2 linked regions of the Homo sapiens genome follow. The protein of the gene in region 2 purifies or fractionates together with the protein of the main gene of each other region. This does not show direct contact. Each region holds a gene or a part of one and is shown on either strand. Other genes may lie near its edges.

Region 1 (7,029 bases), on a different chromosome or scaffold from region 2:
CTAAGGGCTGGGATTACAGGCATGAGCCACTGCGCCCAGCCACATCTTTTAAATCAAAACATTTAGTTGGCCCCTAACCTAGAGGAGATGTGAGGGAGGATTTTGGTAAGCCTTTTGAAATAGCATGCTGTCAACTAAACTGTGTTCTCCCCAAATTCCTATGTTAAAGCCCTAACCCCCAGTGTAATGGTATTTAGAGATGAAACCTTTGGGAGGTGATCAGGATAAGATGAGCTCGAAAGTGTGGGGCCCTCATGATGGGATTAGTGCCCTCATAAAAAGAGACACCAGAGAGCTTACTCCCTCTCTCTCTGTACCATATGAGAACACAAAGAGATGGCAGCAGTCTGCAAGCCAGAAAGAAGGCCCTCCCCAGAACCGGACCCTGCTGGTACCCTGATCTCGGACTTCCAGAACTATGAGAAAATAAATGTTAAGCCATCCAGCCCGTGGTATTTGTTACAGTAGCCCAAGCAGATGAAGACAGAGGGGAAATGCAGGTTTGCTGGTGCTACGCAAAAAACTGTTTCAGTAGTCTTAGGATGGGGATTCGAACGAGACACACAAATGTGCACCTCTCTAGTATTCTGATTATGTACATGAACATGTCTGGCATCATACAGGTATTTAAAAAACGTTAGTTCCAAATGCAATGTGGAACACTGGACTAGGTCCTAGCACAGAAAAGAGATACTAGTGGAAGGCCTGGTGACATCCAACCAAGTCTGTGTTTCAGTTAACAGTAAAGTGTTGATGTTAATATCTTAGTTCTGACCACTGTTCTATGATTATGGACGATCAGGGGAGACTGGGTTATGGGCACATCAATTTTCTTCTCTAACTTTTCAACTTTTCAATCAATTTAAAATTATTCCATTGGAAACTTGAGAGGAGGGTAAAATTTTTAAAATTAAAAATAAGTAAAATAAAATAATTCCAAAATTTAGAAATTTTCTTTAAAAAGAAGTTAACTGAAGCCGGTCGTGGTGGCTCACGCCTGTAATCCCAGCACTTTGGGAGGCCGAGGCGGGGGGATGACCTGAGGTCAGGAGTGGCCAACATGGTGAAACCCCATCTCTACTTAAAATACAAAAATTAGCCAGTCGTGGCGGTACGCACCTGTAATCCCAGCTACTTGGAAGGCTGAGAAGGGAGAATCGCTTGAACCCAGGAGGTGGAGGCTGCAGTGAGCCAAGATCGCGCCATTGCACTCCAGCCTGGGGTACAAAAGCGAGACTTCGTCTCAAAAAAAAAGTAAAAAAAAAAATAAAAAGAAGTTAACTGGCTGGGCGCAGTGGCTCACACCTGTAATCCCAGCACTTTGGGAGGCCGAGGCAGGCAGATCACAAGGTCAGGAGATCAAGACCATCCTGGCTAACGCAATGAAACCCTATCTCTACTAAAAATACAAAAAATTGGCCAGGCGTGGTGGCACACACCTGTAGTCCCAGCTACTCGGGAGGCTGAGGCAGGAGAATCGCTGGAGCCCGGGAGGTGGAGGTTGCAGTGAGCCAAGATCGTGCCACTGCACTCCAGCCTGGGTGACAGAGTGAGACTCCATCTCAAAAAAAAAAAAAAAAAAAGTTAACTGAATCAGAAATAAATGTTGAATGAAAAATAACTGAGACTAGGATAAACATCCAAATAGAGCCAACAGAGAAAGAAGGCTGGGCATGGTGGCTCCCACCTGGAATACCAGCACTTTGGGAGGCTGAGGTGGGCAGATCACTTGAGGCCAGGAGTTCAAGACCAGCCTGGCCAAAACAGTGAAACCTCATCTCTACTAAAAAAAAAAAAAAAAAAAAAAAAAACTTAGCTGGGCATGGTGTCACACACCTGTAATCCCAGCTACTCCAGAGGCTGAGGCAGGAGAATCACATGAACCCGGGAGATGGAGGTTGCAGTAAGCCAAGATTGTGCCATTGCACTCCAGCCTGAGTGACAGAGCGAGACTCCTTGTAAAAAAAAGAAGAAGAAGAAAACCAAGATCGTTTCTTCCCCTGCAGATACAGAAAGATAAGCTGGCAAGGGAAGCCAAGGGGAGGATGAGAGAGGCGGCAAGAGAGCCAGGTGGTGTCCAGAGGGCCAGGGGAGTTTCAAAGAGAATGGCAATGCCAAGAGCACCCACCCTAAGGGGCAGAGAGGTTGCCCAGAGTCCAAATTCAGACGGCCAGATTGGACCACTGCTAGACCAGCAGCTGATGGCATGGAAGCCAAGCTACAGAGGGGCAAGGAAGCTCCAGAGCCTAAGCTGGGGCAGACCTCGGGACAGACCTCGGGGCAGACCTTGTTGAAGGTAATGGTGTCTCTCTGGATTGTGGCTTATATTTACAAAACATTTTTGCATGTTCTAATGTTCTAATATGTTCTAATATGAAAAGAATATGGCAAACAGAACCTCTATGACTTTCCCAGTGACTCCATTTTAAACATTAGCACCACATTTGCTACAGAGCCACTCACGGATGGGGAAATGTCGTCATCATATTTTTTTAGCTGATTCATAAACTCCAGATGCTTCTTCTCCTCCTCCAGTTGAGCCACAGACTGCTCACTCTTCTGCAGTTTCTGCTGCGTGTTGGCCAGTTCATCCCGTAGCCACTGATTCTCCTGGCACAGACGACGAACCTGCGCACGCAGTTTCTGCTTCTCGGACTCCACAGCATTCAGGTGATTTGACAAAGCCATCATAACCTGAGCAGACAGAAACGTGTGCAGCACTGTGGCACGTTGTCCAGCAAGAGTCCCTCCCACCCGTGCGAACATTCTGTGGCTGGGGCTGTAGCTTACACTCGCAGATATTTTCTCCAAAGTACATATAAGTACAATCTGCCATTTACTTCTCTTTTCCCCTTCAGCCACAGACTACAAAGCAGGGTATGATAAAGAATATCACACGCTCAGAATGCCTACAAAAAAATACTTATTTTTTTGAAGAGCATGCCAAATGAACTAGCAATGAAAACACAGCTACCCTTCTGATGAAACTGTATTATTTTACTTTCTATCAAGATGGGCCCAACATAATTTTTTATAGACCCTTTCCCATGTGTAAGACCTCGTGTACACACATGCATGTCTGCGCACAGAGTGCATGTTGGTGAAGGGCTGCAAGTGGGGGTCAGAGAACAGTGCACATACAAATCTTCCTTGATGTTCCAAGGTGAGAGAAGACATCTCTGTAGCTACCACCAAGAGTAAGAATGCACTGGTGCACTCATAAGCTTATGTTTATGTCATAAAATCCAGGGGCCACTCCAGGGCTCTGCCTACAGAGTGCTCACTGGTTTCTGGAACAGACCAGCGTGAGGCTGTGGCAAGTTCCTAGGAGCATAAGAGCACAAACAGCTAGGAGCTGGCTGGCAGCAATCTGTTCTCTCTTTAGAACATACATCTGCCCATCCCTCTCATAACATAATAACCAGGTTATTATCCTCCTAGGTTTAAAACCTGAAACTCCAGAAGGTGGGACCTTTTCTTCCTTCTTTTTTTAAAACTCTTATCTGCGACACCAAAAAAGCAAGTTTAAATTCATGTCACCTGTTCTCAAGGTAACAGAACTTGAGAAATAATACGTTCACAATATCCAAACAGAGCTACAGTTCTGCAACTCAAGGCTGTAACATGGTTAGGATGAAGACTCTAAAATCAGGGTGTGGGCAGTCACTTCCTCTATGAAAGCAGAAACCGCTGGCCAGCAGCCCCTCTTCTGCTCTATTCACTCACTAAACTAGAGAATGCTAAGAAAGAAGCAAAGCTTTGGTATATTTAATTTTACCTAAGATATGCTGACAGAGCCAGAAGTTATCAGGAGAGAGTATTTAAAAACCTAGATGTTTCCAGTGTTTTCATCTCTATGTCAAGCATGATATTATAGAAACAAAGGTTAGTCAAAGATATGAAGCAATCTGGCCCTGGGATTGCAGAGACCATCACCCACTGGCCAGTGTCCATTCTCCTTCCTTAGGCTTAAGGACCTGCCACTGTAAGTGGGAAGACAACATTCCCCAGTCTCCCACTCACCCAGGTACAGCCATAAGGTCTGGCCAATGCAATGTAAGCACTGCTGTACACATCATCAAAGCAGCAGCCTTCAAGGAAGGAGGCACGTCCTTCCTTTCCCTTCCCCTATGCTAGAACAGGGCCACATGGAGCTCACTCTCAGTCCCCAAGACAGGCTGCCAAGGTGCAGTGTGGCAGATGTTAGGAACCTGAGTATCCCCGATGACTGTGTAGCTACAGAACCCGTCCAGGAGAGTGTACCTCAGTACTTATTTGACAAACATCTTGTGGTTTAAGCCACTGTTTTTGTTTTTTTGATACTGGCAGCCAAATCAAATCCTAAATGATACACAGCAGTATCCACTATTTTGGATCCGCTTTTCAAAATTCAGAGAGGCCCTGAGGTCAGGAGTTCAAGACCAGCCTGGCCAACATTTTAGTTTCTACTAAAAATACAAAAAATTAGCCAGGAATGGTGGTATGTGCCTGTAATCCCAGCTACTTGGGAGGCTGAGGCAGGAGAATCACTTGAACCCGGGGGACAGAGGTTGCAGTGATCTGAGATTGAGCCATTGCACTCCAGCCTGGGCGGCGAGAGCAAACACTGTCTCAAAAAAATAAAAATAAAAATAAAATTCAGAGGCCGGGCATGGTGGCTCGCGCCTGTAATCCCAACACTTTGCTGAGGCAGGTGGATCACGTGAGGTTGGGAGTTCAAGACCAGCCTAACCAACATGGAGAAACCCTGTCTCTACTAAAAATACAAAATTAGCCAGGTGTGGTGGCCCATGCCTGTAATCCCAGCTACTTGGGAGGCTGAGGCAGGAGAATCATTTGAGCCCAGGAGGCAGAGGATGCAGTGAGCCGAGACTGCATCACTGCACTCCAGCCTGGGCAGCAAGAGCAAAACTCCATCTCAATCAATCAATCAATACAATTCTGATAGGCCCAAATCAATAGTAATTTATTAACATACAGAACACATGATCTGTTTTGTTTTGTTTTTTCTTTGAGAAAAAGTCTCGCTCTGTCACCCAGGCTGGAGTGCAGTGATGCAATTTTGGCTCCCTGCAACCTCTGCCTCCCAGGTTCAAGTGATTCTCCTGCCTCAAGCCTGCCTAGTAGCTGGATTACACACGCCAGCCACCAGGCCCGGCTAATTTTTGTATTTTTAGTAGAGTCAGGGTTTCGCTATGTTGGCCAGGCTGGTCTCAAACTCCTGACCTCAAGTGATCCACCTGCCTCAGCCTCCCAAAGTGCTTGGATTACAGGCCTGAGCCACACCGCACTCGGCCTGGATCTGTTATTCTATAATCATCTTTCCTCTTCTTTAGTGAAACTGCTTATTTCAAACAAGTCTCCATTTTACCATCAAAAGTTCCTGATAACGTCTGAGTCATTCTCACTCGTACCTGTGCCTCACTCAGGCCGAGCTCCAACATCTCCAGTGACTTCCGGATCATGTTTGATTTCTCCTCCACCAAATTACTTTCATCATCTTTCTTCAAACACTTCAGTGTCTCCAGCAAACTTTGTAAAATGGAATTGTGCTCATTCTTCAAAGCTTCCAGCCCCTGAATTACTTGCTTTGTCTTAGAAATAATTTCATCCTGTGTAAGCTTCTCCAACTTGTCTTCCTTTATGTACACCATTGTGGACATGTTGTCATACATTCTGGAATGAAAAAAGAAAAAGAAATTAGATCCCTCATTACAGGTTTCATTTCTGTTACATCAAGTAAATATGAAAATTTTTTAATTAACATTTTATAGGGGAATAATAAATATGCACATTTGTAATTTATGACCTTGAAATACCATATTCTGCAGTTTCTGTTTTTCCTTTGCAGACACATTTAATTACTTTTCTGGTTTATGTCTTAATTCTTTTTTATGACAGCAACTGAAATTAATGCCAAAGATTAAAAGCAGCAAAACATCTAAATGGCATTTCCAAAACACATAGCCTCGGTGAACAACATTTTTTCTCAGAATGTTTGCAAGCCTTTTTCTCTTCCTAATGAAATGCAGGAAGAACACTACATTCTTGGTAAAATGTTTAACTGGACAAAGGCTTGAAAAGGAGTCACACAGCTGGAAGAAGAAAGAAAAACCAGCCAAAGAACATGGAACAGGAAGAGCAGCAGGGGAGGAGCAGACCTGGAAGACACAGGGCATCAAGGACAGGTGCAGCACGGTCACCGGGCAGGCTCACAGATGAGGATGGCACAGCGAAGCACCACCAGGGCCAGGCCCAGGGTGATGTGATGCAATGTCTGGAAGGGGCTTTCAAACACCAAAGTGAGAAAGAAAAGGGGGAGGAAAGGGGAATATAAAAACAGCATCATTTGTGCTGTTGTGCCTGACAGCCGCTGTCACTGAGCAATGGTTCCCTCTGCTAGCCTCTCTCCTTTTTTCTAAGTCTTAAAAACCCATAGTTAAGTTTAAAAAACAGAAAGATAGTGAGCAGTGATCTTTTTCGGCACAGTGACAGGGATGGAGGCAAGATTACACGTCAGAGTTATTTCCTTCACAGCACTGCCACTGTCTAAAATCTCACGATTCATTAAGTGTCTAATGTCACCTTGAATATAAGCTCTTATTTAAAAAGGCAGGACAGCCAGGCATGGTGGCTCATTCCTATAATTCCAGCACTTTGGGAGGCCAAGGCAGGCGGATCACTTGATGGCAGGAGTTCAAAACCAGCCGGCCAACACGGCGAAACCCTGTCTCAACTAAAAATACAAAAATTAGGTGAGTGTGCTGGCACACGCCTGTGGTCCCAGCTACTCAGGGGGCTGAGGCACGAGAATCACTTGAGCCCGGGAGGCAGAGGTTGCAGTGAGCCAAGATCTCACTACTGCACTCCAGCCTGGGTGACAGAGCGAGACTCTGCCTAAATAAATAAATAAAAATAAATGAAGTAAAATTAGCTGGGTGGTATGTGCAGGTATTCCTTGCTACCCAGGAGGCTCAGTGAGGCACAAGGATCGCTTGAGTCCAGGAATTTGAGGTGACAGTCAGCTAT
Region 2 (7,029 bases):
AGGTTCCCTTCCTTCAACTGCCAAAAAGTAAAATCAAGGCAGTTTCATTCTGACTTTTGTCACTGTAATTGATAATAGTTTTTTTATCTCAAAGGGGAGAATATTTTATATGCTAGTGTAGCACAGCAAAAGTAATCAAATATAAGAAGAAAGAACAAATGTATTCAGAGTCTCTTTTAATGTTTACTAAATCTAGTTAACAAGCTTTAAATGTATTACTGTATGTAAATATATGTCTTGACCCATATATTTGTGGAGGAAAAGAGGTGTTCTTTCCTGTTTTGATACTTGATTTTCAATGGTTTTTTGTTCATATTTGTCTTTTTTTTTATAACCATAATAGACAGGGAAAAATGCATTTTTTGTGGGAGATCTTGGAAAGATTGTGAAGAAACACAGTCAATGGCAGAATGTAGTGGCTCAGATAAAGCCATTCTACACAGTGAAGTGCAACTCTGCTCCAGCTGTACTTGAGATTTTGGCAGCTCTTGGAACCGGATTTGCTTGTTCCAGTAAAGTAAGTATTTTTCATTTTTTAACTAAACTGAAACATTGAATAATTTAACTTAATGTAGTTACAGCGGTTAGAGAACAAATGCAAGGAAGTTTGACTTTTGGATGGAGTTTCAAAATAATTGTTTAAATCTCCAGCCTCATGTTGGAAAATTACAAGCTTTTCAAGTGCACCAATGAAAGGGAAGTTTCAGTGTAATGAGCCTTTGAAACGTTTTATCTTTATTAATTGAAAACTTTAATTTGTTCCTCATTCTTAGGCTAGAGCTACTTCTAGACCAAACTACAGCAGATATCTAAACTCTGAGATTTCTTTGGTGCTTCTTTTTAGTAATGTTTAGGCCAGGAGCGATGGCTAACACCTGTAATCCCACCACTTTGAGAGGCTGAGGTGAGAGTTGCTTGAGCCAGGAGTTTAGGATCAGCCTGGGCAACATAGTGAGACCTCGTCTCACTTTTTATTTATTTATGTTTTTAAATAAAAATATTGGTTTGGCTAGGCACAGTGACTCATACCTGTACTCGTAGCACTTTGGGAGGCTGAGGCAGGAGGATCACTTGAGCAGCCCCAGAGATGGAGGCTGCATTGAGCTATGATTGTGCTATTGCACTTCAGCCTGGAATACAAAGAGTGAGACCCTGGTTTTAAAAGGGGTGGGGGTAATAGTATTAGAGGAAGCATTACCAGAATATGAACTGTGACATTATGTATTCTCACTTTAACCTCATTTTCACAGAATGAAATGGCTTTAGTGCAAGAGTTGGGTGTACCTCCAGAAAACATTATTTACATAAGTCCTTGCAAGCAAGTGTCTCAGATAAAGTATGCAGCAAAAGTTGGAGTGAATATCCTGACATGTGACAATGAAATTGAATTGAAGAAAATTGCACGTAATCACCCAAATGCCAAGTAAGTATAAAATTAAGTACTTGAAAATATTATTTAGCACTTAGAGGGTTGGGTTTGTCTTTTGTCTGGGAAGAAAGGAGCATTTGTGGTAGGGCAATGATGTGTATCATAATTATAACTTATTTAAAGGGCCTCTGTGGGAAACACTAGTAACATTTTATTGGCTCTCTACCTCTGATCCTTCATGTGGAATTGGAATTTAAAAAAATAAGAGCAGTTTGGGGATATGATCTAATAATCTTCAAGGAATCCTTGATAGTTGGTGTGATAATCAAATTAGGGCCATGGCTGTATTTTCATTATTTCTATAACTTTGTTTGATGTTTGATAACGTTAGGAACAGGATAAACTTTGGTCAGCATTTTTTCCTGTTTAGCTGAGGATTTAATCTACCCTAGGCCATAGTTCTTGAATGGTCATCTTTACTGACAGTGTCTTCGAAGCCTAGACCATAGATTTGGGGGGTTTTGTTTTTAAGGCTAATACTTTTATTTTTGAACATGAAGTTTAATTTTTTACTTGCATCTTCATGTATCCAGAGAATTTTTTTTTTTTCTTGATTAGAAAGTTTACTTTTTAAAGGCTGGGCGCAGTGGCTCACACCTGTAATCCCAGCACTTTAGGAGACTGAGGCTGGTGGATCATTTAAGGTCAAGGTGGCCTGCGCCTGTAATCCCAGCTACTTGGGAAGCTGAGGCAAGAGAATCCCTTGAACCCAGGAGCCGGAGGCTGCAGTGAGCCAAGATCGAGCCACTGCACTCCAGCCTGGGCAACAGAGCAAGACTCCCTCATAAAAAGGTTTACTTTTTTAAAAGCAAAAAGATTTAAGGCAAATTTTATGTTTTCACAAACTGGTATATCGAGAGGGCTTAAGAATATGCTAAAAGCATATTGAATTATGCAGTTGTTGGCTTACTTTTTAATGAGTTATGTGTGTTTCCGGAAATGAATTCTATCTGTATTTTCTTTGTATGTCTATAATTTTCATACTGACTTTAATGGTGTACTTAAGATATCCTGACAGCATTGATTACTCTGGTAAATCTTTGTGTGGATAAAAGCCTTGTTGGGAAAATTCTAGGGAACCACTTGTTTTTCTAAAAAATATTGTTCTGTGATCCTCTGAAGACAAGCTGTGATTTGTGATGTTTAGTATGTTAGATTGTGGACTGGCATCTTCTTGATGGAGCTGATTCTAACCTTAGAATAATTTTTGCTTTCATCAATCTTGTCCTCTGATTATCAAATTAGGGCCATAGCTGTATTTTCATGGCCATATTATTAACCTTCTTAGTTTATGTAATTATTACATCCATAGGAAAACAGTTACACAAAAAGAATTTGTATATTTTCAACTTCTAGCAGTTTGTAATTACTCAGCTCCTGAAATTAAAGAAATTTAATCAGTTTTAGTCATCTTGTCTTGGTTGCCATGGTTTGGAAGGAAATACCAAATAGATTTGAATCAGTAGACTAGAAGGCTGCTGTTTAAACACATGAAATAATTTTTTAAAAAGCTTTCTGGGTTGGGCGCAGTAGCTCATGCCTGTAATCCCAGCACTTGGGGAGGCCGAGGCGGGTGGATCACTTGAAGTCAGGAGTTTGAGACCAGCCTGGCCAACATGGTGAAACCCTGTCTCCACTAAAAATAAAAAAAATTAGCTGGGCGTGGTGGTGCACCCTTGTATTTCCAGCTACTTTGGGAGGCTGAGGCAGGAGAATTGCTTGAACTCAGGAGGCACTCTCATGAGGCGGAGGTTGCAGTGAGCTGAAATTGCGCCACTGCACTCCAGCCTGGGCGACAGAGTGAAACTCCATCTCAGAAAAAAAAGAAAAAAAAATTTAAAAAATGCTTCCTATTTTTTTCCAGTTAGAGACCTGCTGGGATGTAACAATGTTAGTAGGAAGAATGTTTGCAGTAACCATGGAGGTTTAGCTAGTTAGCACAATCAAAGAAATTTGAAGACATTTAAAGCCCTGATATTTTTATTGAAAGACAATGATGGCATTGCTATTCAATTTAGTCTTCCTAGGTGGATTTATGGACTGATGGACTTCATTTGAAAGTAATGTCGTCTTTCATTACAGAGCCCAACCAACTCTTGATGCTACAACAGAGTCTTAACTTGCTGCATTTTCCAAAATCCCATCCTTGTAAGCTTCATGCTTTAGGCCCTAATTGCTAGTTTTTTCTCTATACAGGATTGTTTTTCATTAGGTTCACTTGATTCATCCGTCGCTGGATTTGGGAGCACTGGCAACATAATCAACACACTTCCTACAATCTTCAGGCTTCACATGTGCTGATGATGATGTAAACCAACTCTGCCCCAATCATCTCCCCTTCTCTTAGGGTCTTACTACATATTGCAACAGAAGATAATATTGGAGGTGAAGAGGGTAACATGAAGTTTGGCACTACCCTGAAGAACTGTAGGCATCTCTTGGAATGTGCTAAGGAACTTGATGTCCAAATAATTGGGGTTAAGTGAGTATTTGTTTTAAACTTTTAAAGCTGTGAACATTTTATGGTGGTAACCTGTCTTTCTGGTTATTGATTTAAGACTTTATTTGCATGAAATCTAAGATGCAATTTTTTCTAGTCTTTTAACACACATGTATGTGTTTTCTTCTTAGTTTAGGCAAAACAACTTAAATATGCCTTGTCCCTTTTCATACTGTTTTGTGACTGTACCTCCTTCCCCACAATAAAAAGAATAGCAAATAATATTTTGATTCAGTTAGTGCAGAGTAACTTAAATCGCCGCCTTTTAAATTGGATGGGAGGGGATTTGCTAGAATTCTTAATGAAAATAAAAGTGTCAGACTTTTTTGTCCTTTTAACGATTACTCTGGGGGACTTCAATAAATTAGACTTTGCTTTAGCCTTTTAATTTTATATGTGAGGAAACCGAGACTCCAAGAGGTTCAAATACTTGATAATAGCCTCAGAACTAATTACAGGCATAGTAACACTAAGCCCTAGATGTTATTTGCCAGCCCATTGCTACTTTTACTAAAGTAAAAAGGTCTTGCTTTTTCAAACACTCACAAAGATGTATTGTGTATCTTTCTTTAATTTTATTATTTATTTTTTGAGATAGTATCTCATTCTGTCTCCCATGCTGGAGTGCAGTGGCACGATCACGGCTCACTGCAGCCTCAAACTCCTGGCTCAAGCAATCTTCCTGCCTTGGCCTCCCAAAGTGGTGGGATTACAGATGTGAGCCTCTGTGCCTGGCCTTATTGTGTATCTTTCTATACTACTTTGTACATAAATAGGTGGTAGTCTTTTAAACAAAGAATGGGATCATGCTGTGCCTTACACAATAGATAACATTCCATGTCAGTCTAGTTTTAAGTTTTAATTTAAGTCAACATAAAAATTAATGAAGTACTATCTCGAATAGATGAAGGGAAAAGAAGAATGGACTTTACGGGTACAGTTCTATGGATTTTAGTACTTGTGTGACCACTGCCACAATCAGGAAGTATTCTATTCTGAAACTTTATCACTAGTAATACTAGTGAATAATAGTAATGCTGTTACTCAGCTTGATTAATGTTCATTTTTATTTATTTCACAACAGACACATTTTTGTATTTGGTTGGGTAAAATTGAATGTTCAGTTTTATGCTCAACTGAATGTGATACGATTTGGTAGTGCTTGTTACTTCACTATATAAACATAAAAGTGCCACATATACATAAAAGCACACCTTATTGTATAACCGTGGAACAGTACTGATAATTGACTTATTGTTAAGAATTTTTGTTTATAGAATTACAGTTTTATCTTGGCATTGCCTTTTCTATAAAGCTGGTACTGTAACTTTTGGGTAATTAGAAGCTAATGCTTCTAATACTTTAAATATTTGGTAAAGTTAATGGGGATACTTAATGGTATGAATATGATGAGTGACAGTTGAAAGAAATTACAGGAGGTGTCTCTACAACTTTCTGCTCCTTTAAATTTAGTATTCTATGTGTTTCAGATTTCATGTTTCGAGTGCTTGCAAAGAATCTCAAGTATATGTACATGCTCTATCTGATGCTCGATGTGTGTTTGACATGGCTGTAAGTTCTTTCTTTTAAGTTATTTTGATATTTTATTTTAGCCAGGATGTTAAGTTAAAGACTAAGTATTTTCTGCCTGTGTGAATTACTCTGACTACATTCAACGTGACACACACCTCATTTTTATTATATAAGCATTCAGAGCTCTGTACAGTCACACCTTTTAAGCAGGTAAAGGAGTGAAATAGTAATTTACTTGCATAAGTCTAGAAGAGAGTACAAATAAAATCAAAGAGACAGCATACCTAACATTGAATAATCTGTTTCTATCAGTAAAAAACCAAGAATTTGCTGTACTAAAGATCAGAACAGATATTTACCTCCCTAGGAGGGGGTTTTTAAAATGTTCTCATATCCATTACAATTTGGAAAAACATTTAAATTTTTTTTTTCCATCTCTAGGGAGAAATTGGCTTTACGATGAACATGTTAGACATTGGTGGAGGATTCACGGGAACTGAATTTCAATTGGAAGAGGTAAACTTCTCAGTAGATGACATTAACAGAATAATTGCTTTCTTTGTTACTTAAGTGGTGGATGTGTAGAGCAGGATTTTTACAATGGCAGAAACTAAACCCTATAACATCTCTTTAAAATTATGTTCTTAGAAAAGGAATAGGCAGTTAGTAGACCTAGCTAACTTTGAAAAGTTTGATAGAATTCTTTGAACATTATCATAAAACATTTTCTATTTCAGTTGTGTTTCTGTACTTAATGGCACAAATGATTTAATACTTAGAAAACTTCACTACTACCTTTTTTTTTTTTTTTTTAAAGTCTTCCTGTGTTGCCCAGGCTGGAGTGGAGTGGCGCAATTATAGCTCACTATAGCTTCCAACTCCTGGGCTCAAGCGATCCTCCTGCTTCAACCTCCCAAGTAGCTGGGACTTAAAAAAAAAAAAAAAAAAAAATTGAGTCTTTCTATATTGCCCAGGCTGGTCTCGGAACTCCTGGCCTCAAATGATCCTCCTGTCCCCAAGTGATCCTCCTGCCCCAGCCTCCCAAAGTTTTGGGGTTACAGGTGTGAGCCACCACTCCCAGCCAACTTTAGCATTTAGGCCAGATACACGTCACACCTGTTTCTCACCTTCCTGCTCTGCCCTCCTTCCTTCTGTGATATCTAGAAACTATGATTTGAAAATTTTACTTCTGTTTTTAGTGATCAAGTATAGAAAAATGACTTAAAAAAAAACAAAAACAAATACCAGTGGGTATTTGTTATTAGAGCTATTTTTAAAATTAATGCCATTCTGATAGTTACAAAATAAACTGACTTGAAAGCATGCCTAATTAATTGCTTGGAGATAACTACAAAGTTGCTAAGGTTCATGATCTGTGATTGGAACTGCTTCATTTTCCTAGAAAATTTTGTTAATATCAATCTCTGAATATTGCGAATTATCTAATCCAATATTGAAACCATACTGTGGCATTTAAAATCCATAGGTTAATCATGTTATCAGCCCTCTGTTGGATATCTACTTTCCTGAAGGATCTGGTGTTAAGATAATTTCAGAACCCGGAAGC

Evidence for each region. The genes of interacting proteins can lie anywhere in the genome.
Region 1: the proteins of AZIN1 (region 2) and KLC1 purify together in Homo sapiens (affinity purification with mass spectrometry; 3 studies listed by BioGRID and IntAct, with this or other methods). This does not show direct contact.

What each region holds. Positions count from the first base shown.
Region 1 is NC_000014.9:103,653,211-103,660,239, reverse strand, and holds part of KLC1 (kinesin light chain 1), read right to left. Parts: intron 5,677-7,029; 5' UTR 5,676-5,676; coding exon 5,415-5,675; intron 2,695-5,414; coding exon 2,464-2,694; intron 1-2,463. UniProt on the Homo sapiens protein: Kinesin is a microtubule-associated force-producing protein that may play a role in organelle transport. The light chain may function in coupling of cargo to the heavy chain or in the modulation of its ATPase activity.
Region 2 is NC_000008.11:102,833,138-102,840,166, reverse strand, and holds part of AZIN1 (antizyme inhibitor 1), read left to right. Parts: intron 1-343; coding exon 344-517; intron 518-1,250; coding exon 1,251-1,423; intron 1,424-3,625; exon of another isoform or gene 3,626-3,776; coding exon 3,777-3,911; intron 3,912-5,419; coding exon 5,420-5,501; intron 5,502-5,903; coding exon 5,904-5,978; intron 5,979-6,948; coding exon 6,949-7,029.